Linked DNA regions of Homo sapiens: all the other regions are linked to region 2. A link means that fine-mapping ties the variant in region 2 to the expression of a gene that starts in the linked region. Tissue or cell type: whole blood. Region 2 holds a variant in brackets; each other region holds the start of a gene. All regions are shown on one strand. Distances are between the middles of the regions.

Evidence for each region. PIP is the estimated chance that this variant, and not a neighbour inherited with it, causes the effect.
Region 1: it holds the start of AVIL, and the variant in region 2 is fine-mapped to the expression of AVIL in whole blood (TOPMed, PIP above 0.99).
Region 3: it holds the start of CTDSP2, and the variant in region 2 is fine-mapped to the expression of CTDSP2 in whole blood (TOPMed, PIP above 0.99).

The regions. Positions count from the first base shown.
Region 1 is chr12:57,813,742-57,821,843 of GRCh38, reverse strand. It overlaps AVIL (advillin), which reads left to right and starts at 3,110. Exons shown (of 20, transcript NM_006576.4): 1 at 3,110-3,215; 2 at 5,785-5,869; 3 at 7,618-7,692. The coding sequence starts at 5,804. CTDSP2 (CTD small phosphatase 2) reads left to right here. Exons shown (of 8, transcript NM_005730.4): 8 at 1-1,917.
Region 2 is chr12:57,979,021-57,987,122 of GRCh38, reverse strand. It overlaps the pseudogene ST13P8. Among named protein-coding and RNA genes, the nearest start is that of ATP23, 42 kb to the right of the region's middle. The variant G/A (reference allele first, on the strand shown) is at 4,624.
Region 3 is chr12:57,842,008-57,850,109 of GRCh38, reverse strand. CTDSP2 (CTD small phosphatase 2) reads left to right here and starts at 3,381. Exons shown (of 8, transcript NM_005730.4): 1 at 3,381-3,738. The coding sequence starts at 3,675. CTDSP2-AS1 (CTDSP2 antisense RNA 1) reads right to left here. Exons shown (of 2, transcript NR_188077.1): 2 at 6,349-7,851. RefSeq lists silencers at 2,900-3,079, 3,150-3,229, 3,240-3,669, 4,260-4,559, 4,890-4,939.

The DNA.
Region 1 (8,102 bases), 170 kb after region 2:
CCCAAGGTTATAAGGCCTTGTCTTTCTCTTTGGAATCATAAAGTGGAACAGAGTCCCCAGAACTCATGTGGCCATTTCCGCCAGCATCACTCCCCGGTGCCTATGGGGTCCCGGTGTACCTAAAGGGAGAAGGACCCCATGTGCTAGCCAGAAATATACTGTCTCTTGAAGGAAAGCAGGAGCTCAGACTCTTAGAGCCAGCTGTGGCTTCGGACCCAAGGCCTGACCTAGGCTGCTATCCTAATATTGCAGGAGGGGCCTCTCTTCCAAGCCCCACCCTAAGGGTTAGCCCTTGGCCAAATCTTTTGCCGTCTAGGCCCAGCCAGGCTTTTCTGACTAAATAAGCAATAAGAGGCTCTAAGCTGACTGAGTTGCAAGGACCCTTTCCGCCCTCCCTTGGATCTCCATGTTTTTCCAGATGGCGGAAGAGCATGTGCCACCCCCTTTCCTAACAGACTTGTCCAAGTGCTTGGCGTGGGACCCATGACCAAAGCCCAGGATGGCTTGGTGGGAGTGTCCCTGCTGCATCTGCATGAAGCCCCTGCTTTTTAGGCCTCACTCCCATCAGAACCCTGCCTGCCCACCTGCAACTCCCCCCCAACAATGCCATTCCCACTTGCCCCAGAGAAGCTACTCGGCCAAACCTAGCCAGGGTCTGTTCTTGTGGACCAGAGCCAGCCTAGTCATTATTTGCTGTCGGGTTTCCAGTTTCACCGTGTGTTAGGGTGAGGGATGATTGTAAAATTTGCTCCTCAAAGGAATCAGGCCAGACTCAATTTTGGAGGGCAAGACAGGGAGGAGGCCGCTTCATCCCAGACTCTCTTCTAGGGCTTCCCACCATCAGCCCCTCCCACTTGAGACTGGTCTTTGGGAGGCAATAGGCCACCATGCCTGGTCAGCACCAATTCAAGCCATGCCAGGAATCTGCCTACCTGCCAGGTTCAGTTCTTTTAAGGTGCCTCTTCAGGGACACAGTGTGTCTCTCTGATTGGGCTTCTAAATCAAAAGCCTGATGTTCGTGTCCCTCTCATAGGGGGAGCTTTGGACACAGGACCAGTTTGGAAAAGGGTCAGGTAAGGGTTTCCACTCTGCACATTGTAGAGGGAACACTCTGTAGGCCCATGGGTCCCTTACTAGAGAGGTTGAGTGAATTTGCCTTCAGTTAACATGGGACCTTCTGTTTAGCTTCCTCTTGCTTCCCAAAGATTTTAAGCATTTTGTAAATGTATAAACTCACCTCTGGTAACAGTGGCCCAGACGCTGCTTTGTGCTAAAAGCATGGGAAATGTAAAGGCAGTCTTTCTCTGGGAAATGGATGCTATTCTATTCTGCTGCCCCTACCTGTTCCTGAGGCCTCATTTAGAAAGAAAATCCCCTCAGAAGGCTGTCTGGCACCCAGTGTCCTAGCCAGGCCAAGTATATGAGAAAGGTAAGTCCATTTTCCCCTTCAGGTCCTCAGTGGATTACTTAACCACTGCTGTCCCTCGGTCCCTTTTTCCTAAACGGGTTTAGTTCTGTCTTTTTTCTCCTTTTTTCTAAATGCTGGTAAATATTTACATTCAGCCAGGGAAGAGGAGGCCAGAGGTCGGGCCAGCTGCCCCATTCTTTTAACGTTGTAGGGCCTGCCCATGGAGCGGACCCTCCTCTTTGGGCCTCGTGAGCTTTTTTGCTTATCATGTTCCATTTCGTGCCGCTTTCCCCCTTCAAGATGCCATTTGGAGGGTAGGGGATCTGCTTCCCACTGTGACTGGGCTATGGGATTCTGACTACCTTGCTTACAGATTCATGGTTTGATAAATTTGTTGTATTCAAAAACTTGAAATGCAGGACGCCATTAAGTGTCTGTTTATATTTTTGGAATATTTGTATTACTTACAATTAATTAATAAAAGTGGGTTTAAAAAACCTTTCCAGGAATGTGAGCTGCCACCAACCTTCATTGGCCCTTAAGTGTTCACTGGGCCCATGGCAAGCACCGCCTTTCTTCTCGCAACCCCTTCCATCATGAAGCAGCTGCACCCCCGGGCTGAGTGGGGTGTTGCACCCACCGGGAGGCCAGCTGCAGATGCCACACAGGGCTTCCGCTCAAGGTTACACAAGTTCTGCTGTGATCAACCCCATTGCAGTCAGGTGCTTAGCACGTGTATATGCTTGATGTCCTATTGACTTCTGGGCATGAACCAGAAGCCCTAAGGGAATGGATTATTATTTTTTTTTTTTTTTTTGAAATGGAGTCTTGCTCTGTTGCCCAGGCTAGAGGCAGTGGCATGATCTCAGCTCACTGCAACCTCCACCTCCCAGGTTCAAGCGATTCTCCTGCCTCAGTCTCCTGAGTAGCTGGGATTACAGGCGCCTGCCAGCACGCCCGGCTCATTTTTGTATTTTTAGTAGAGATGGGGTTTCACCATCTTGGCCAGGCTGTTTTCAAACTCCTCACATTGTGATCCACCCACCTCAGCCTCCCAAAGTGCTGGGATTACAGGCGTGAGCCACCACCACACCCAGCCCTGGGAATGGAGTCTTGATTCTTCTCTGCCCCTCACTGATTCTTCCAAACTGGAAACCCTGAAGCTGAGAGCCCAGCATGGTTCCTGGCAAACAGCAGGCACTCAAATATTGATTGGTTTACTGTATGACTAGTAGAGACCCCAACGAGCAAAACTGTGGCCTAATAAAATTCTGGCTCCTCTCCCAGACTTCCCCTCCCTTTGAGAAATGCCAGAAGCTTCTTAGGGAGGCTCTTGCCAACCTAGACATCACAGGCACTCATGGGGCAGCTCCAGCCTCTTCCTCCTGTCATCACCATAATGCATCCATATCTACAATATGGCAAATTTCATATCCTTCCAACCTCTTTCCTGCATTATTGATGGGCTGTGTGCACTTTTTAAAAAATCAATTAGATCAGGGCGTGGAGCTGGAGTTCAAAGAAGCCTTTAAAAGTCTGCTCTTCTGTTTTGCTGTTTTGAATAGGCACAGATAAAGCTTTCCCTCTGGTTTGAATAAGCCAAGCTCAGTGCTAGGTTGGCTCTGATTGGCCAGGACTAGGAAAATGCGGTTAAGATGCAAACACAAGCAAATATAACCCAGTATCTCTGCGGCCATTACTAAGCTAAGGCAGCAGGACCTGGAGCCTCCTGCTTTGGAGTGGTTCTTCAATACTGCTGCTGCTTACGCGCCGGGAAACTGGGAAGGCTGGTGAGCGAGAAGGCAAGGTAAGGTCTCTGATTTACGGGGGCATGCCAGTTAATCCTCCTGAATGAGGAAGAAATGAAAGGAAGAGGAGCTTGAGAGTCCCTTGGCTTTGTCTTCTGAGATGAGGCTTTTAAAATGAACCAGGAGTCTGGCTGGCCAGTTTTGCAAACTTCTTGTTCAGAAGAACCCCTTAGAGGCAGCTGAACATATAGGGCACATTTTCAAAAGCTGGGAAAGACAGACCCCTTTCACCTATCCCTAGAGAAAGATGGTATGGAGCAAGGCAGGAGGAGTTAAAACCAGCTTCCTGGCCCAGAGAGGTGGCTTACACCTGTAATCCCAACACTTTGGGAAGCCAGGGCATGAGGATTGTTTGAGCCCAGGAGTTTGTAACTTGTGACCATCCTGGGCAACATAGTGAGACCCTGTCTCTACAAAAAAAAAAAAAAAAAAAAAAAAAAAAAAAGCCAAGCATGGTGGTGCACACCTGTGGTCTCAGCTTCTCAGGAGGCTGAGGCAGAAGGATCACTTGAGCCCAGGAGGTGGCGGTTGCAGTGAGCCGTGATTGTACCACTGCACTCCAGCCTGGGTGACAGAGCAAGACCCTGTCTCAAAAACAACAACAACAAAAAACAGCTTCCTCTGCTCAGGGTCCGTCCAAAAGGGCATCTCTGAGAATTACAGGCCACTGGCTTTTAACCTGACATTTCAAAACTGTGCCCCACACCCAAGGGGTTTCTGCAGTCCTCTCAAAGGATACTGAATTAGGATTTAGGGAGAAGGAGAGACCCAGCTTTGGGAGATTTGATGTCAGAACTGTGTTTTCTGTGTGTTCCAGTGTGACAGGAAGTCCCTTCCTGGAGCTTATCCTCTCGCATTCGGGGTGCCTGGCCCAGGGAGCTCCTTGATTCCTAAATTCCTGCTGGGAAACGGGACAGGTTTCAGCCTCTGAGGCTCACAGTCCTAATTGCTGCCGGCTGGTTTGGCTTTTACCAGGGTGACAGTTCTCTGTCTCCAAGGAATGAATTCAGTGGCCCTTGTCCCCTTCCCCTAGTTGGCTCATGGCTTTTGCCTTTAATGACTGCTACGTAGGGTCTGAAGAAAACCCAAACACCATATTTCCTGGCAATTCTGAGCAGCACAGGGTGGGGCAGCACAAGTTATCAAATTAAATTCTCAAACACTGGCTGCTCCGCACCATTGCCTTGCTTTAGTCCTGCTACAGCAGTAGACAAAGCGAGTCTGCTTTGAGCTTTATGGTTTTTTGCCAAAGTCCATACTAGATGGCGCATGCTCTCCAAACTTGGCTTTGTCCATCAAGGTTCAAGAAAACAATGGTCAGACATGTTCCTCTTAACAAACAGTATGTCCCCAAACAGCAAAAATGCATACAGTCCTTTCTGGGTGAATTTTTAAATCTTACATAAATCCATCAACCCCATCCTTTTTCCTTTGCCTCTTGGGAGAAATTAATCTAGCTTTACATTAATTATGCATGTTATCAGATTTCAAGCTCCTTGAGAGCAGGTATTTTAATTCTATAAAGCCTCTACGTGGCCTTGGACATGGGTAGGTGCTTAATTACCCAAGATGCTCCTTGAATACAGATGGTACACGACCTACACAGACTTAGATCTTTACCACTTCCCCCCTCTCCCCACCCTGACTTGCTCAATCCTGAAGGAACTGGAGACGTCTAAGTGTCTGAGGTTCACGCTTCCACACAGAAGCTTGGGTCTGTGTGGGAGGGAAAAAGGAAGCCATCTGTCCGCAGGCCAGACCAGGCCACACCCTGCTAGCACCCAGAACCCTTTGTCCCAGGCCCAGCCCTGCCATTTTACTTTCCTTGCATCTGGAAAGCACAGGGAATATAGTAGTGACAAAAGAAGGAAGGGTTGTTTGAGTTTAAGAATAGTTTACTCTAAAAAAAAAAAAAAAAAAAAAAAAAGGACAAAAGCCAAAGAGAAGGTCAAAGTTGACTGTGGAGAAGGCCTTGCAAGCAGGGAACTTGGGAAGAATTGGAATGAGAGTGAGAGAAGGCAACTGAGTTTGGAAATATTTTTTCTGACTAGCTTTTCTTTCCAAATGCCACTGAACTTAGATTGGTTTAGGAAGGGTTGTAGTACATCAAAGTGGCTAGAAGCACAGGTTTGGGGATCAGATAAGGATTTCATTCTAGAGTGTGATCTTGTACAAGTTATTCAGCCTTTGCAAACCTCAGATTCACACAATGTAAGATGAAGAAACTCACCTTCTGAAAATTAGAGATAACATATGCAAAGTGAATCAATACAGGGCTTAACATATTTATCACCCCTTTGGTAAATAACCATGACGATTACCAGAGCTCTTAAGGGCAATGGCAGGTGGGAAGCAGAACTCATGGGTGGTAATCCCCAGGCCAGCCAGGCTCACCATGTGCACTTGGACAAGTCCTTGCCCCCATCATTGTGAAATGGTGCAGGGATGCACCATGAGGGTGTGGCAGGATGGCTGACAACAGACTGGGAAGCAGCTCGGCAGAAAAACTGGATTGATGCCCACTATGGCAAGAGATATCATCTCCCCTCTTGTTCTGTGATGTTTCAGTCCTGGAAAGACAAGCATCATGCCTCTGACCAGTGCCTTCAGGGCTGTGGACAACGACCCTGGGATCATTGTCTGGAGAATAGAGGTGAGCTGGGCTGGAGGCACCTTACTTGTGACCACTGGCATCTGGAAGCAGTCTGGCTGCCTGGGGCTGCTAGGCAACAGCCCGCCAGCACCCCTTAGCCTATGGTTTGAGGAGAATGAGAGGCAGCATCAAAGTACCTATTTCCCATCCTTCACCTCTCCTGGGTGCTCAAAGCAGGTGGTTGGCAGGTGGAGGAAATGTTCAGCCCCGAAGAACAGGGCTCCAGACAAAAACAGGCTTGTCCTTTAGCCAGCCACCTGCTCAGTGAGTCTGCACTTGCAGGAAACACCCTGGAAAGACAGGTGGGACCTACTCAGCAGACTCCTGGCAGCTTCCATCAGAGAAATGGAACATGTCTTCCACGGGGCACCCTGGCTCCTACAAAATATGGGGAGAGGTGAGGGGGCACTGCAGAGATGAGGAGCTGTTCAGCCCGTCTCCTCTTGGGCTTGGGACCCTCTGTGCGGCTGTGAGCTCCAGCAATCCATAGCTGGGAACCACCCTGGCCTGGGTAGCTCCACCTGCCAGATACGAGGATTCCCCCCAACCCCTGCCCTGAGCCCAGTCAGTTGCTGCTGCCTAAAACCCAGCGATGATGCCTCACTTCACTATCCTCAACCAGGAGGGGGAGTCAGCTCTCCAGCAAGCCTCGCAGAGATTGTGAGTCCCAGGTCACTTCCACTGTTTGAAGGCTTCCAGTTTCCTTAAAAACTAACAGGTACTGGCGGGGTGCGGTGGCTCACGCCTGTAATCCCAGCACTCTGGGAGGCTGAGGCGGGTGGATCACGAAGTCAGGAGATTGAGACCATCCTGGCTAACACAGTGAAACCCCACCTCTACTAAAAATACAAAAAATTAGCTGGGCATGGTGGCAGGCGCCTATAGTCCCAGCTACTCAGGAGGCTGAGGCAGGAGAATGGCGTGAACCCGGGAGGCGGAGCTTGCAGTGAGCCGAGATCGCGCCACTGCACTCCAGCCTGGGAGACACAGGGAGACTCCCTCTCAAAAAAAACAAAAACAAAAACAAAAAACAAGTACTAAAACACGGTTACCAGATTTGCAGTATATTTAACATTTATCACATTTTACATAGAACACACACAAGTATGGCCGCAAGTTTCCCTCACTTGGGGAGTGTGATGAAAATCTACATCAAGGCTGTGTGAACAGTCCTCCAGGGCCAAGCCATACATGCAGTGATAAATCAGGGCCCTGACCCAGACTCCAAATATAAGACACTTGGCACAGAGCCCTGCTGACCGCTGGCACTCTCCAAATGTTATCCTCCACCTCCCACGGCCCCACAGAATCCAAGTGTTCTTTCTTACATGGGCCTGGGCCAGCACCCAGTGGTCAGCGTTGGGAAGAGCGTTGGAGGTGCTGGCACAACGGCTCAGAGAAGGGTTTGTACTTGGTCGTTTATATCCAGCAAAGGGCTGGAGGTGGTTCACAGGTTTCCCACAATAGTGCGAGATGAGATCGGGTGGGAAGTAGAGTGGAGAATAGGGCAAGGGAAAGCAGGATAGGGACCAAGGTTCAGATCCGGGGTGATGCAAGCAGAGCTCACAGAAGCCAGAGGGATGGCCACGTTAACCCTGTGGCTGGCAGCCTCACATCCTGTAAGGTCATTGAGAACATCTCCCCTCCTTCTCCCCACCACCTGCACCGAATGACAGAGAGGAGAGGGAGGCTCATGGGGAAGGGAGGTGGGAGGGGATGTAGCCTATACCCACCCCTTGTCCTTCCAGAAAATGGAGCTGGCGCTGGTGCCTGTGAGCGCCCACGGCAACTTCTATGAGGGGGACTGCTACGTCATCCTCTCGGTGAGCACCCTCCTCCCCACTCCTGTGAGCCTCTCCCCTGGGGCCAGTTCTTGGGCTGTACTGGGAGATGTGCTGGTGAGGGAAGGTAGTCAGTCCCTGGTATCGGTCTCAATGGTTCCTCAGTGCTATGCAGAGCAGACCTCCAGTCTGACTATCAAAGGCCATCATTAAGCCTGGGTTTTTAATGCTGCATAAGAGGATGGGGGTAGGACCCTCAGTCTGAACCTCAGTGAGCCACCCACAAGCAGCACTTCTCCCGGGCCTAGGCCCCACATTAAAGTGGTGTGGAAGAAGGCCTGATAAATGCAAGGCCTGTCTCTAGCCTCAAAGTGCTATTCTCATGGAGGAGACTCACATGAACGGTGCTGACAGGGTCGTGCAGGTGTACAGATGAGCACTGTGCCAGCTGT
Region 2 (8,102 bases):
GGAAGAAAGTGGTAATTGTTTACTAGGGGAACAAAACAGAATGTCACATTAAGAAATCATTGGAAACCCTGTTATCCATGACCACCATCCTACGCTAAAAATTAAAGAAAGAAGAGCACTGGAGTTAAAGTTACATTCCCACTCAAACCAAAGACATTTTTGCCTCTTCATATAAACTGTAAACTCCTCTCTCTCTCTAACAGGGTTTGTGTCATATCTCTGGATTCTATCCCAATGCCCTACAAATTGAAGGTACCAAATACCTATTTTCTTTTTTTTATTATTATACTTTAAGTTCTGGGATATATGTGCAGACTGTGCAGGCTTGCTACATGGGTATACATGTGCCATGGTGGTTTGCTGCACCCATCAACCCATCATCTAGGTTTTAAGCCCTGCATGCATTAGGTATTTGTCCTAATGCTCTCCCTCCCCTTGCCCCCACGCCCAAACAGGCCCCGGTGTGTGATGTTCCCCTACTTGTGTCCATGTGTTCTCAGTGTTCAAATCACACTTATGAGTGAGAACATACAGTGTTTAGTTTTCCATTCTTGTGTTAGTTTGCTGAGAATGATGGTTTCCAGTTTCATTCATGTCCCTGCAAAGGACATGGGCTCATTCTTTTTTATGGCTGCATAGTATTCCATCATGTATATGTGCCACATTTTCTTTATCCAGTCTATAATTGATGGGCATTCGGGTTGGTTCCAAGTCTTTGCTATTGTGAATAGTGCCACAATAAACATACATGTGCATGTGTCTTTATGGTAGAATGATTTATAATCCTTTGGGTATATACCCAGTAATGGAATTGCTGGGAAAAATGGTATTTCTGTTTCTAGATCCTTGAGGAATCGCCACCCAAATACATATTTTCTAAGAATGATGATAATAATGAACTAACTCCTCTAATTCCTACCAGAAAATATACTCCATACATAATTAGACCCATGTTTTTCAAAACATGTTTCACAAAAGGTGTATGCCTTGCCACATGGATGGTAGTTCTACTAAAAATGGGAGGAAAAGAAAAATTATTTAGCTAAATAAGATTGAGAAACCTAAGCATAAAGTTAAATAAGTTGCATTACCACATAATTTCTTAAGAAATTTTAAAACATTTTTGTGCATTGTGAAACTCTAAGAGACAGTTAAAATTTGCAACATTTCCCATAATTGTTTGATAAGGAAAACTTATGAAACCTTGAATGGTACCAGTGTCTTACAGACCAAAGTTTAAGAAATGCTACATTAGATGAATGTTGAGTGCCCACTATACACAAGGATAGTGTTCATTGAAATATATCCTTTCTTTCAGCCTTGGGGATTTTTTCATCTGTAAACAGATGATAATAACACCTACCTCACAGGGTTGTCATGAAACTGGAATGAAATCAAATATATGCAATGCCAAGGCTAGCACAAAGAGGGCCAAAATGAACTCTCCTTCTCTGTCCATAAAGGCATTACTGTGGGGAAAATGAAATAGTCCTGAATTTTACTGCACTTATACACACCTCTGTATAGGTTTGTATGCCTGGGGACAGAAATGTATCATATGACACTTCATTGTCTGGTTCAGGAGTTAAGTCAGTCCAGCCATGGCCATCTCCCACCCAACTAGATTTAGTTCCTTAACTTCACAAGCCTCCATCCACCACTGCCTTCCTTAATTAGACCTATGGTCCCTCACACACAGTCAACACACTTGTAAAGACCCAGGCATTCAAGCATAAACCAGAAACATAGTACATCCAGTTGCCAAAATGGTTAAGTACTTTTTTAGCGAAGGATCTTAAGCAAATATATATATATATATATGTTATTTAGGGTCATGCAAGTGCTGAACAGTACACTAGAACTGCTTTTAGTTTCTAATCTTTTAACAACACTGCATGGCAAAGTTGATTAAAATAAATATTTAAATAAAATCTAAGTTGAACAAAGCATTACAAAAATGTTTAAGCCTCAAGTGCACGCAGCCACAGAATATGCTCTTGGACATTGCTCCCTGAAAGGGCTGCTATCCCCCGCCTCCTTGAAGGCACCCATGTCAGGGGTTGCCCCATCCAGGGAGCTGGTCCCTAGTTAAGAATATGAGCATGTGTGCGCAGAAAGGCAGGGAACAGCACGAACAGCCACGCTTCTAGAAGGTTCTAGGGAGAGGGCAGGAGCAGCGCAGAGGGAATAGGAATGAGCAGGCAGAGGACCTGGGGTCACGAGACCGTTGGGTGAAGAGGAGCCAGTGGCCAGGAAGGTTCTAGTGTGTTCTGTCTCCCGGCAGCCGCCTGCTTCTACGAGGTCATGCCAAGCCAGCACCTGGGCCTGGAACCAGCCACAGCCCCTTAGCTTTGCCCACCGCCTCCCGAAGTGAACACGCTTCGGGCCTTTGTGAAAATGTGTAAGCAGGATCTCAGCGTTCTGCACACCAAGGAAATGTGCTTCCTGAGGGAGTGGGTGGAGAGCATGGGGAGTAAAGTGCCACCTGCTAGTCAGAAAGCTAAATCAGAAGAAAATACCAAGGAAGAAAAATCTGGTAGTAAGAATGTGGAGGAAGACTTAAAGGCAGATGAACCATCCAGTAAGGAAAGTTATCTAGAAATTAATAATGAAGGTGTGATTGAACCAGACACTGATGCCCCTCAAGAAATGGGAGATGAAAATGCAGAGATAACAGAGGAGATGATGGATCAGGCAAATGATAAGAAAGTGGCTGCTGTTGAAGCCCTAAATGATGGTGAACTGCAGAAAGCCATTGACTTATCACAGATTCCATCAAGCTGAATCCTCACTTGGCTATTTTGTATGCCAAGAGGGCCAGTGTCTTCATCAAATTACAGAAGCCAAATTCTGCCATCCGAGACTGTGACAGAGTCATTGAAAAAAATCCTGATTCCACCTAGGACACAGGAAATTACAGAACATCGGAGAAAGTATGAGCGAAAACGTGAAGAGCGAGAGACCAAAGAAAGAATAGAAAGAGTTAAGAAGACTCGGAAGAGCATGAGAGAGCCCAGAGGGAGGAAGAAGCCAGACAATAGTCAGGAGCTCAGTCTGGCTTTTTTCCAGGTGGCTTTCCTGGGGAAATGCCTGGTAATTTTCCCAGAAGAATACCTGGAATGGAGGGGGCATACCTAGGATGGCCAGAAGGCCTGGACCCAATGAAATTCTTAGTGATCCAGAGGTTCCTGCAGCCTTGCAGGATCCAGAAGTCATGGTGGCCTTCCAGGATGTGGCTCAGAACCCAGCAAATATGTCAAAATACCAGAGCAATCCAAAGGTTATGAATCTTATCAGTAAATTGTCAGCCAAATTTGGAGGTCAAGCCTAATGCCCTTCCGATAAATAAAGGCATTGCTGAAGGAAAAGCAACCTAGATCACCTTATGGATGATGCAGTAATACAAACCGGTGTACCTCTGACCTTCTCATCAAGAGAGCTGGAGTGCTTTGAAGATAATCCCTACCCCTCTCCCCCGAATGCAGCTGAAGCATTTTACGGTGGTTTGCCATTAGAGTATTCATTCAGATAATGTTTTCCTACTAGGAATTACAAACTTTAAACCCTTTTTAAACCTTAAAAATATGTAAAACAAATTTAAAGGGTCTGTTAATTCTTATATTTTTCTTTATTAATCATTTTGGATTTTTTTATTTGAATTATTGGGCAGGGAAAATACTTATGTATGGAAGATTATTGCTCTAATTTGAGTGAAATAAAAGTTTATTAGTGCGAGGCAAAAAAAAAAAAATGTTTAAGCCTCTTGTGATGCACAATTCATCAGTGATACATTAGTGCCCTCTGCTGCTGGCTGAGTTTTCCAACAGCTCAGAATTTCGGTATGGCTTTTCTTTTTCTCCTTTTTTTTTCCTCTCTCTCTCCTCTTCTTTTAAGAACATTGCAGTGTATTGTTTTGGTTCAACATTTTACACATAAATTAATAAAATTAGTAGAATGGTAATCAGGATGCATGGGATTATTTTAAATTATTATTGCTTGTGTTTCGACATCAACGCAAAGAAATTTCTTGATCAAAATTACTTAGAGATTTCATATTGAGCTGCAATCACGGAACACAGCATACATTATTGCTCCTTAATTGTAAAATATTCTATAAAAGGTAACTTATGTAGCTGGCCTGATAGCATATCATATAGGTTCCAATTTTTAATGATTATAAATATAATAATTTACCCCTCATTTTGCCTGGCTTATTTCTTAGGGTTGCCAGATTTAGCAAATAAAACTATGTCCCAGGTACTTTCATGGAACCTATTTCTACTAAATACTTATACTAAAAAATGCTAAATTCTTAGGTAAAAAAAAAATATTTACAGTTGATCTGAAATTCAAATTTAACTGGATTTCCTGTATCTTACCTAGTGACCTTATCTATTCTCATGTGTGCTCTGAATTTCATAATTGAAATTCTTTTCTGTTATGATAATCAGAGTTTATCCTACCGTAATAATGACTAAAACCAAACACATTTCTTTATTTTCTATTTCTTTCCTCACATTTTGTGAAACGCTGAGTAGGTTTTCACATAACAATGCTTAATGCACAAATTGACATAACAAGGTTTGTTAGTCATGAGATTAAAAGCATTTGTTCTTAAAAGAA[G/A]AGTTATTTAATTAATGGATGGATTAAGTAAGAACAATCCTGAATTCCTCAACTTCCTTTATGGAGCAACAAACATACTATATAAAAAGCATATAAAAATTCCGTTTTACGAATGGTAAGTTTGAAAGTGAGGCCACCCAGATGCAACATTATGCTAAAGCAGTGATTCTCAAGCTTGCACAGCTGAACTTGTGGAAGTTTTTTGGGATTTTGTGTGTTTGTTTTTGAGACAGATTCTCACTCTGTCACCCAGGCTGGAGTACAGTGGCACAATCACAGTTCACTGCAGCCCCGAACTCTTGGCCTCAAGCGATCCTCCCACATCAACTTCCCAAGTAGTTGGGACTAGGTGCACCACCATGCCTGGCTAATTTTATTTATTTATTTATTTATTTATTTATTTTAGAAACACGGTCTCACTATGTTGTCCAGGCTGGTCTCAAACTCCTGGCCTCAAGAGATCCTTCTGCCTCAGGCTCCAGAGTCGCTAGTATTACAGGTGTGAGCTACTGCGCCTGGCCAGAGAGTGCTTCTTGATTTTAATATACACATGAATGAAACAGATTGATCTAGCAGAATCTGGGCATTTCTAATTAGCAACTAGTTGATGCCATTGCTGCTAAGCCAAGGACCATACTTTGAGAAGAAAGATTTTAGAAGAGACCAAAAAAGAAAAAGCAATTTGTTTCAAAATGGAACTGTATAATGTCTGTGAGAATTGAAAATGCAGATTACTTACCACCACATTACTGCCAGAATGTAATGATAACTGCCACAGAAACGAAGGATGGGAGCGGAGATGAAAGAAAACGATTAATCGTCCTGTGGTGGTGTTCAGTGTGCCATCTTCAGTTCCTTTATCGTTTTCTGTCACAGTATCTCTCACTGGCAAAATGGAATTAATATTTGCTCCCTCACTACTTTTTCAGAATTTGAGAATTTGCATTAGATCATTTTATATGCAGCATCCCAAATATGCAGTAATTTAAAGCATACAAGTTTAGACCACATTAGAATTGAGTTCATAGTTTATTTCCATCAGACCTCTTTTAACCATTTTGGTCTGTTGGAGTTTAAGTAGCAAGATGCAGATTGTGCAACCATGTGGAGCTGATCAAATCAACCCCTGAAAGTGTAATTGGTAAATCTCTTCAAGTGCTTTTGAAAAATTAATCAAGACAGGTTTGGTGAACCTTTGCTGAGAGTGTCATTAGGACAAATGACTTGGTTCCCAATATATTATCATAAAGGAAAACTCCAGCTGCAAATCCCAAGGTGACCCATTTATCTCACTTGAATGGAAAATAATGACTTTTTAAGCACTGCAAATAATTCCGCTGGTTTAAAATCAATTTGGTTAATACAATTAAATAGAACTATTTGATCTTTCAGGTTCAAAAACCACCAACTTGACTCAGACATTAACATTTTAATATGGAAACAGCCACCATAATCTTCCAATGCCCTCAAAAATGGTTTATAGGGACACGTTGTAGAAAACAGTGCATATAACATTGTCTTTAAAATCTTTCCAGAATTAATAATATAAACTGGTATTGAGGTATTCTGCCTTAAGCATTCATATTTCACCTCAAAGCCAATGCCTTTTTTTTTTTCACACAGTCTCACTTTGTCACCCAGTCTGAAGTGCAGTGATGTGATCTCTGCTCACTGCAACCTCCATCTCCTGGGTTCAAGCGATTCTCCTGCCTCAGCCTCCTGAGTAGCTGGGACTACAGGCATGTGCCACCACACCCAGCTAATTTTTGTGGATTTTTTTTTTTAATACTTTAAGGACTGAGATACATGTGCAGAACATGCAGGTTTGTTACATAGGTATACACGTGCCATGGTGGTTTGCTGCACCCATCAACCCGTCATATACATTAGGTATTTCTCCTAATGCTATCCCTCCCCTAGCCCCCTACTCCCCAACAGGCCCTGGTGTGTGATGTTCCTCTACCTGTTGTGTTCTCATTGTTCAACTCCCACCTATGAGTGAGAACATTTGGTGTTTGGTTTTCTGTTCCAGTGTTAGTCTGCTGAGAATGATGGTTTCCAGCTTCATCCACGTCCCTGCAAAGGACATGAATTCATCCTTTTTTATGGATGCATAGTATTCCATGGTGCATATGTGCCACATTTTCTTTATCTAGTCTATCATTGATGTGCATTTGGGTTGGTTCCAAGTCTTTGCTATTCTGAATAATACTGCAATAAACATACATGTGCATGTGTCTTTATAGTAGAATGACTTATAATCCATTGGGTGTATACCCAGTAATGGGATTGCTAGGTCAAATGGTATTTCTGGTTCTAGATCCTTGAGGAATAGCCACACTGTCTTCGACAATGGTTGAACTAGTTTACACTCCAACCAACAGCGTAAAAACGTTCCTATTTCTCCACATCCTCTCCAGCATCTGTTGTTTCCTGACTTTTTAATGATCACCATTCTAACTGGCATGAGATAGTATCTGATTGTGGTTTTGATTTGCATTTCTCTAATGACCAGGGATGATGAGCTTTTTTTCATATGTTTATTGGCCACATAAATGTCTTCTTTTGAGAAGTGTCTGTTCATGTCTTTCTCCCACTTTTTGATGGGGTTGATTTTTTCTTGTAAATTTGTTTAAGTTCCTTGTAGATTCTGGATATTAGCCCTTTGTCAGATGGATAGATTGCAAAAATTTTTCTCCCATTCTGTAGGTTGCCTGTTCACTCTGATGATAGTTTCTTTTGCTGTGCAGAAGCTCTTTAGTTTAATTAGATCCCATTTGTCAATTTTGGCTTTTGTTGTAATTGCTTTTGGTGTTTTAGTCATGAAGTCTTTGCCCATGCCTATGTCCTGAATGGTATTGCCTAGGTTTTCTTCTAGGGTTTTTATGGTTTTAGGTCTTTCAATTAAGTCTTTAATCCATCTTGAGTTAATTTTTGTATAAGGTGTAAGGAAGGGGTCCAGTTTAAGTTTTCTGCCTATGGCTAGCCAGTTTTCCCAACACCATTTATTAAACAGGGAATCTTTCCCCATTGCTTGTTTTTGCCAGGTTTGTCAAAGATCAGATGGTTGTAGATGTGTGGTGTTATTTCTGAGGCCTCTCTTCTGTTCCATTGGTCTATATATCTGTTTTGGTACAAGTACCATGCTGTGTTGGTTACTGTAACCTTGTAGGAGCCTCGTAGTATAGTTTGAAGTCAGGTAGCACAATGGCTCCAGCTTTGTTCTTTTTGCTTAGGATTGTCTTGGCTATACAGGCCCTTTTTTGATTCCATAGGAAATTTAAAGTAGTTTTCTCCAATTCTGTGAAGAAAGTCAATGGTAGCTTGATGGAGATGGCATTGAATCTATAAATTACTTTGGACAGTATGGCCATTTTCATGATGTTGATTCTTCCTGTCCATGAGCATGGAATGTTTTTCCATTTGTTTGTGTCCACTCTTATTTCCTTGAGAAGCAGTTTGTAGTTCTCTTTGAAAAG
Region 3 (8,102 bases), 140 kb after region 2:
CCTCAGAGCAAGAAATGCTTGAGGACCATCTCCTCTGCATCTTTCAGGGACAGCCAGAGCCCTGAGACACACATGAAGGCATCTACTGCATCCAGGAGTGAAAGTAGCATTGTTTTAACACTGGGTCACAATCCGGTGGTGGTTTGTGAATTCAATTTAAAAGGTCATGGCTGGCACCTTAAAACCATCAAATAGAACACAATACGTGCAATAGAAAATATGAGTGTGCACACATAGCCAGGGTAAGTATTGTCCATGAAACTTTTGTATCATTTATCTCACAACATAAAATGTGTTTCTTGCTGTAGGTCACTGAACAAATCCCTGGACAAAAGAACACTGGTTCAGACATAAAGTCAAGGCCAGGCATGGTGGCTCACACTGGTAATCCTAGCACTTTGGGAGGCCAAGAGGCAGGTGGATCACCTGAGGTCAGGAGTTTGAGACCAGCCTGGCCAACATGGTGAAACCCCATCTCTACTAAAAATAGAAAAATTAGCTGGGCATGGTGGCAGGTGCCTGTAATCCCAGCTACTCAAGAGGCTGAGGCAGGAGAATTGCTTGAACCGGGGAGGCGGAGGTTGCAGTGAGCCAAGATCACGCCACTTCACTCCAGCTGGGGCAACAGAGTGAGACTTCATCTCAACATGTACAAGTCACCTGTTCTGTGTTAGGCACTCTGCTAGGCACAAGAAATCCAGTAAAGAATAAGACATCCCCTAGTCTCAATCCACCTTCTGGTTGGGAAGCCAATAAGCACACAGTTGCAAGATAGGGTGCCAAGTGGTCTGAGAGAGTATGTATGAGGCTATAAAACCCTGACATGAGGGCGGGCATCTGGGAGGGCTTCCAGGAGAGGTGATGCAATTGGAGTTCACAGCAGGAAAAGAGAGCGATAGGTTCTAGTGTCTCCTCCATCCTATAGATAAGAAGGGAACTATGTTAAAGTGTCAAGGGTTCTAGTCTTAAAGTCCAAAGACATCCTGTCTCCTCTTCTTAACAAGCTGTGAGGTCTCAGGTGAGTCAATTAACCTTCCCAGACCAATTCCTCATTTACAAAACAGGCATCTATAAAAATGGGCATAATATCTGCTCTATCAACCTCAAAGAAGTGAGAGATCAAATGAAATAGATAATATATGTGAAAGTACTTTGTAAATTACAAAAGGGGAGGTATTGTCTCTATGGATGAGGAAATGGAAGCATAACGAAGTGAAGTGTCCTGCCCTACAGTGCTATGGGTAGCAGGCCCCTCTAAATCCTCAGTCCTCAGCTCCTGCCTGCATTCCTCCCACTGCAACTAATCTACCTTAGAAGAGGGCAGGGGAAGGGTCTAAAAAGGCCCCCATAGCAACCTGACTATTGAAGATTTACCTTAAAGATCCTATTGTTTTAATGATGGGAGGTGGGTATGTCAGAACTCCTCCGTTTCCCTTTCTGTTAATGAATTAAGATCTACCCAAATTCAGTGTTTAAAGTTACATAAGCATCATTCAGATCTGTAACAGCCACTTTCATTTTGGAAAAACAGCATTTCCATTAAAATGATGTTATATAAAAAGGTTTTGTATACGTGCGTAGGAACAGCAGAAACAGGCACACATGATCACTGTATGGCACACAGGCATATGCAGATCATGACCTCACCTGTCCTCATGAGGAAGGGACCATAGGAAGCAGGTGTCTGATAGTACCTGGCAAGCTTAGCTGTGACCTAGTTGTCCTCTAATCATCAGTAAGACCTGATGCATGTTGGGCAATGGGAACTGCAGCAGGAAGGAAGCCCCTTCCTTGGCAGGGTGAGTGCCACTGAATCACAGAATATTGGGGTTGGATTTAGCTCAGAAGTCACCCAGTGCAATCTCACTCTACACCACTCTTGCCGGCCTTGACTTGAACAGCTACCATTGTCCCAAGGCAGCCCATGTCACCTGTGGACAGATGTAGATCACTGGAAAAGACCTGATATTGAGCTGAAACCAGCCTTTCTGGAGCTACCACCGCTGGGGAACAAAAGCACCCACAACCTTGAGCAGAGACTCCAGGAGCTGTAGCCAGCGGAGCGTGCCCCGAGGCCTAAAGAGCAAGTGGGGAAGGCAGCCTGAGTCCACAAAGCTGAAGCTCCTCCGAGAGACCTCCATCCATCTAAAGGAAGCTGGGACTGTGGGGGCAAAAAGAGAGGGGTAGGATGAGGGAGGTAGGGAGGAGGGGCGGAGTCGGGGCCGCCTAAATGGGAGTAAGTCGGTGGGTGTGAGGAAAGCCCAGCACCTCAGGTCTCATTTTCAGTGTTTTGGGGGACACAGTCCCGAGGTCAGTTCCAGCTCTTATACTCTGGAGTCCTAGGTCCGCCCACACGCACACACCCCTTTCGGGATTCGAAGGTTGTACTTTTTTTTTTTTTTTTTTGAGACAGAGTCTCGCTCTGTCGCCCAGGCTGGAGTGCAGTGGCGCGATCTCGGCTACCTGCAATCTCCGCCTCCCGGGTTCAAGCAAGTCTTTGCCTCAGCCTCCCGAGTAGCTGGGATTACAGGCGCCCGCCACCACGCCCGGCTAATTTTTTTGTATTTTTAGTAGAGACGGGGTTTCACCATCTTGGCCAGGCTGGTCTTGAACTCCTGACCTCGTGATCCACCCACCTCGGCCTTCCAAAGTGCTGGGATTACAGGCGTGAGCCACCGCGCCTGGCCTCGACGGTTGTACTTTTATGTGACTTGGTACGTCCTTGATTCTAGGGCTAAGCAGGGGGGTAAGGTAACTTCCGATCCGCCCCATCCCCTGCTGGAGTCAGGTTAGGCTTAGCGGCTTGTCTTGGTCACCCCTGAAGGGGGAAACCTTTCCACCTTCCCCGAGTGCGCCCTCCGAGAAAAGAACACCCCAGCACAGAGCACCAGAACGTGAGCTTCGGAGCGGCCTTTTAAATAGTTGGGAAGGGGGTGTGGCCGAGGAGACTGGGAGGCCGCAGTCTGGCGCGGGGGGAGTGGCCCGGGGGCGTGGCCGTGGCGCCTGGAATGTTGTTAGGTCCTCTCACCGCATAGTAAGGAGGGGCCACGCCCCTTTTCTCCAAGAGAGCCAATCGGAGCACCGGAACGGTTTCAAGTCTCCCCCGCCAGCCTGCCCGCCCGCCACCCCACCCCCCTTGAGGATTCGCTTTTTCCGTAACAAAATAGCAAAGCTCCCGACTGTCCGCAGCCCCGGCCGCTCACAGATGGAGGGTCCCAGGGCCTAGGACGCAGCCCCCAGCGGGAAGCTCCAGCTGGCCGTGAAGAGGCCGAGTCGAGAGCCGGGAGGCGCGCGGGGGTGGGCGCTGCAGCCGCGGGTTGTTTATCTGGAGTACGGAGGGGAGGGGGGAGCCTGGAAACCGCCCCGTGTCCCATTTCCTCCTCTTGTTTTCGCTCCGGATTCTCCATGTTGGACCCAAACTGAGGAGCCCGGAGCTGCCGCTGGGGGATCGGGGCCGGGGGCACCCGGGGGAGCCGCTGCCCGGGCCGCCCGCCCTTTGTACAGGCCGCCTCCCTTCCCGGTCCGGGGAGGAAACGAGAGGGGGGATGTGAACAGCTGTGGAAGTCGGAGTCTCGGGAGCCGGAGCGGGCCCCCGCCCAGGCCCCCCAGCCCAGCCCAGCCCGCGCGCCCGCCCGTCCTCCCGCCCAGCCAGCCCGGGCCCGCGGGATTGTTAGATGGAACACGGCTCCATCATCACCCAGGCGCGGAGGGAAGACGCCCTGGTGCTCACCAAGCAAGGTAGGGGCAGCAACTTCCCAAAACTTTGCGTCGCCCCCGGGCGCGGAGGGGGCTAGCACAGCCCCGAACCCAGGTCTCGGCCCTTGACCTCCAGGGCTTAGAGCCAGCGATCCCGACTGGACCCCTCCGGTCCATCCGCCCCCGCATCCCGGCTGGCACTCAGACCTCCGTGGGGGTTGCACGGGGATCCCGGCGCCCGAGCGGAAAGGGCGTCTTCGGCGCAGCTGTCACCCTGTCCCGCAACCCCTCCCCCTCGGGGCTGAGAGACGGAGGGGTAGCTCTCGAAGCACTGGGCCACTCCGCGTCCACCGCCTCCGGAGTTGGGGGTGGGGTCGTCACTTTCCTTCACCGCCGCGCGCGGCTGCCCCGGGATCGCGGGGAGGGGTTAGGAAGGTGACAGAGGGAGCCCCAGGTGGAACGGAACCGAGACTGGAGTCCAGCACTTGCAGGCCCCCCCAAGCCCGAGGTCGTTCGGGCAGCTAGCTGGCGGTGACGGCGTCCGGCGGGACTTGGGACCAAGTTCACCTCTTGGAGGCGGGGGCGGTCGCGGTGGGGGAGGGGCCCGGGCCCTGGCGCACCAGACGTGGCGGGTTCCCGGCTCAGCGCAGGCCCCGGGACCTTGGCGGCGTCGGGCTCCCTCCCGGCTGCCTCTGACCAGTTTCGCTGAGCAAACAAGCCCGACCCTGAGGCCCGGCCAGAGCCCCTCCCTGCCCGGTGCGCTCCCCCGGGGCCGGCGCTGCACACACAGAGCCGCGTTTGTTTAGCCCGGGAGCGGTGTCCCTGGTTACATAATTCGCCGGATGGCATCAGACCCGGCGTGGTTCTGAATCGCGCAGCGAAAAAGTGCGAGTTCTCTGTGGGCAGCGGCTGGCGGCCCCCGCCTTCCAGAGCGTCAGGTGGAGGCGCGAGGGGGCCCGCAGGCCCTCGCGGGGGTGAGGCGGAGGCCGAGGCCTCTCCCGGGGCGGGAGAAAGCTGGGGCCCGAGGGTGGAACCTCTTAGTTTGGTCACAGTGGGAGACTCGAAACTCTTTCCCCCTCCGCCACGTTCTTCTTTTGGCCTTGAGGAATGTGTCCAAAATAGCGGCAGATTTTCCGCGGGGTGTAAGGACGAGTGTGGCGTTTCTCTAGAGAGCCCCCCGACCGGGGCCACCTGGCCCCGGAGGCTGGGGCGGGAGCTGGCTCCTGGGGCCGAAGCCGGAGCGCTCCCTCCCCTTCTCCACCGAGCGCGAAGGGCCGGTGCTGCAGTTGAACACACTGAGGCCTAGAGCCTGGTGGGCGGCCAGCTTCGGGGCCTCGTGCGCCCCACGTCTCCCCGTTTGGCAACATTAGTCAGCAGGTCACTAATTCCTGGGGTTCACGTTCCAAGGAGCTCCCCCAACTTCCCTAGGGGCAAATCCGCTGAGTTGGTGGTGTCAGCCTCTCCCAAATTCCCTCAGTGGAACGAGAGGAGCTGGGAGGGGGGAAGGGTGGGGGGAGGGAGGCAGTGTGTTCCTCTTGCATCACTGGCCGGACTTTAAATAAGCCTGCCCTGAGAAGGGATGGCCTTGCCTACTCAGATCCCAACCCCCGAGAAGGCTCCGGCCTCCCTGACCTCGGTGTTGCCATGATTTCTGCTCTCCTGGCTGCATCACTAACCAGGCTGTGACCCAGGCAGCAACTTCACCGCCTCTGCTGGCTGCTCAACTGTGCTGATGGCTGAAAAAGGAAGGGAGCCTGCGTGTGTTTATAGCTCACTCCTGACTCTTCCCACTCCCTTTTTATCCCAGGAAAAGACCCTAAGAGCTAGCCAGAGGGGAAGAAACCTAGATGTGGGGGGATTCAAGAGGGGGCAGTGGTGATGAGTAGGGGGAGGAGCCCTGTGCTTCCCCACTAGGTCTTCCTCTCTTGCAGGGACTCTCTTGCAGGGAGTGTGCCTTGGGCATCGTGGGGCCACGCGAGGAGTAAGGGAAAGCTGGACTGCGCCGGGGCATCTTAGAAATCAGAGCTGGAAGTTTCATCCACCAGGGTGAATGGCAGGCTACAGAATAGATAACAGCAGAAAGCAAAGCAACTGGCTTGACAGTGTTAAGTTGCTGGTGTTGGATTTTCTTGGAGTTAATGTTTCTCCTTTTTTGTGTGTGTGGTTTAAGCCAGCAGCCACTGGGTCTCTCCCTCCCCATGTAATTTTTTATTTTAATTGAGATGGAGTCTTACTCTGTTGCCCAGGCTAGAGTGCAGTGGCGCAATCTCAGCTCACTGCAACCTCCGCCTCCTAAATTCAAGCAATTCTCCTGCCTCAGCCTCCCAAGTAGCTGGGATTACAGGCGCGCGCCATCACGCTTGGCTAATTTTTTTGTATTTTTTAGTAGAGACAGGGGTTTCGCCAGTTGCCCAGGCTGGTCTCGACTCCTGAGGTGATCAGCCCCCTTCGGCCTCCCAAAGTGCTGGGATTACAGGCGTGAGCCACCGCGCCCGGCCCCTCCCCATGTAATTTGATTGCATTCCAGAGAAGACAGACTTTCTTCCTGGGCTGCTTAGGCACCCAGCAACCACTAAACCAACTTTCTGAGTCCCACATCATTTACAAACAAAACCTACGTCTTCAAAACAAAACAAAAAACAAAAGCTGGGGGACTGGGGAAGCAGATGTTTTAATTGGCTCCTTTTGGAGTTCCTTCTTCTCCCCACTCCGTCCTCTCCACAACATCCCATCTCCATGCCTTGCCTGCCTTTGGAAAAAGGGGAAGAAGGAGTGTGAGGTACTTATTATTAATAAGTAAATTTCTGGAAAGAAACAAATTGCTCCTAGCTTGGGTGGCTATTTAGTGAAGTTACTTGCCATTGCGGGTTTTTTTTTTCTTTTTTTAGCATTCTGTTCTCTGAGGTTTAAGGCTGTCTGGGTGCGTTGATGATTCAAAAGTAATTACAGTAGGGGAAGTAGAACAAAGTTGCTGAAAGCATTGATGATAAAAGCACCAAAATTGGATCATCTTCCCAGACAGATGGGTGAAATGGCTTTCTGGTACAGCAAGGACAGGATTGTGTGTAACATCAAAAAGAAAAAAGAAATGTTAATATCAGCTTGGCAAGAATGGCTGTTGATTGCAGCTCTATATGAGATTGTCACCCCATTGCTAAGAGGTTGTGACCTTGGCTTTGGGATTAGATGGGGGAAAGCCAAGGAAACAAGACCCACGCTGTAACCTCCCAACGTGAAATGAGACCTGGTGGAGGCAGCCTCTTCCGGAGCTCAGTGACCCACACGCCTTTTGGAGGAATCAGAGATTTTTTTGTTGTCCATGAATCCTGATGCCCCTTCCTCTCGATGATGCCCTGGATTACCTTCTCACATGCCGAACTGGACAGGTTCTGATAGCTAATTGCAAGGATTCTTCTGAGAGACTGACCATCTCTGAAAATTACGATGTGGCAAGTTTTCAGGATGGCTAGCTCTTTTGTTATCCGCATAAGGGAGAAATTCTGCCTTATTCCCTCAAAAAGTTGTTCAGACACCGTTCACTGTAGATGTAGGCAAGCCTTTAACTTGAAAAGCTTAGACATGAATCTTGCTGGAGCTTCCTTCCATAGCTTGCTATGCAGGGGGCGGGAAGCCTGCATGTTTATAGCTGGCTCCTCCTCCTGCCCTGCTGGTGCCTCTCACCTTCCTTTGCCTACCCTGGGTCTTGGCCTCTTTGTGCTCTCACAGTGACTGCTGAGGCTCCCTCCTGCATCTCCTTTGGAGTTTTTCCCCCATCTTTGGGTAAGGGTTGCAGCCTGCGTGGTGACTTAAGCTTGTGTTTGCTCCTGTCCCCAAAATTGCAGAGGAGCGCTGATAAATCAGCAACAAAGTTTGTAAATGCCTAACATCTGGGGCTGGGGGTTTGCAGTTGACTTGCAGAGCTTTCCACTGAGCAGCACTGGAATTGCTGTGAAAAATCCCTCGGAGGATGGCAGAGGTGGGGGTGTTCCTTTGTCCTCTCTTCTCAACCGTAGAGGTCTTAAAGAAACTGGGTAGCAGAGAGGTGTCATTTCATCCTTTCCATGGGACCTTCCAAATCCCTTATCATGGATTTTGTTAAAATGGTAAATACTAAAGAAGTCACATTTCTAGCCAACGTGAATTGATGCTCCCAACCTGTGAAGAATTAAAGTGTTTGTAAATAAGCATGGAAAAGAAAGACAATATGTAAATATATATGGGATTGTGTGTATGTGTGTACATATCAATACATAGCTTCCCTTCCAATTCCTCCTACAATTTTTTTTTTCTGCTAGCTTTTGGGTAATTTGGGGTATTGTCTTTTATTCCCATCATGGTAAGTTTGGTTCTTAGATTGGACAGAGTGGGGACCAGGGTCAGGGATGGTGGTTAAAGTTTACATTGTT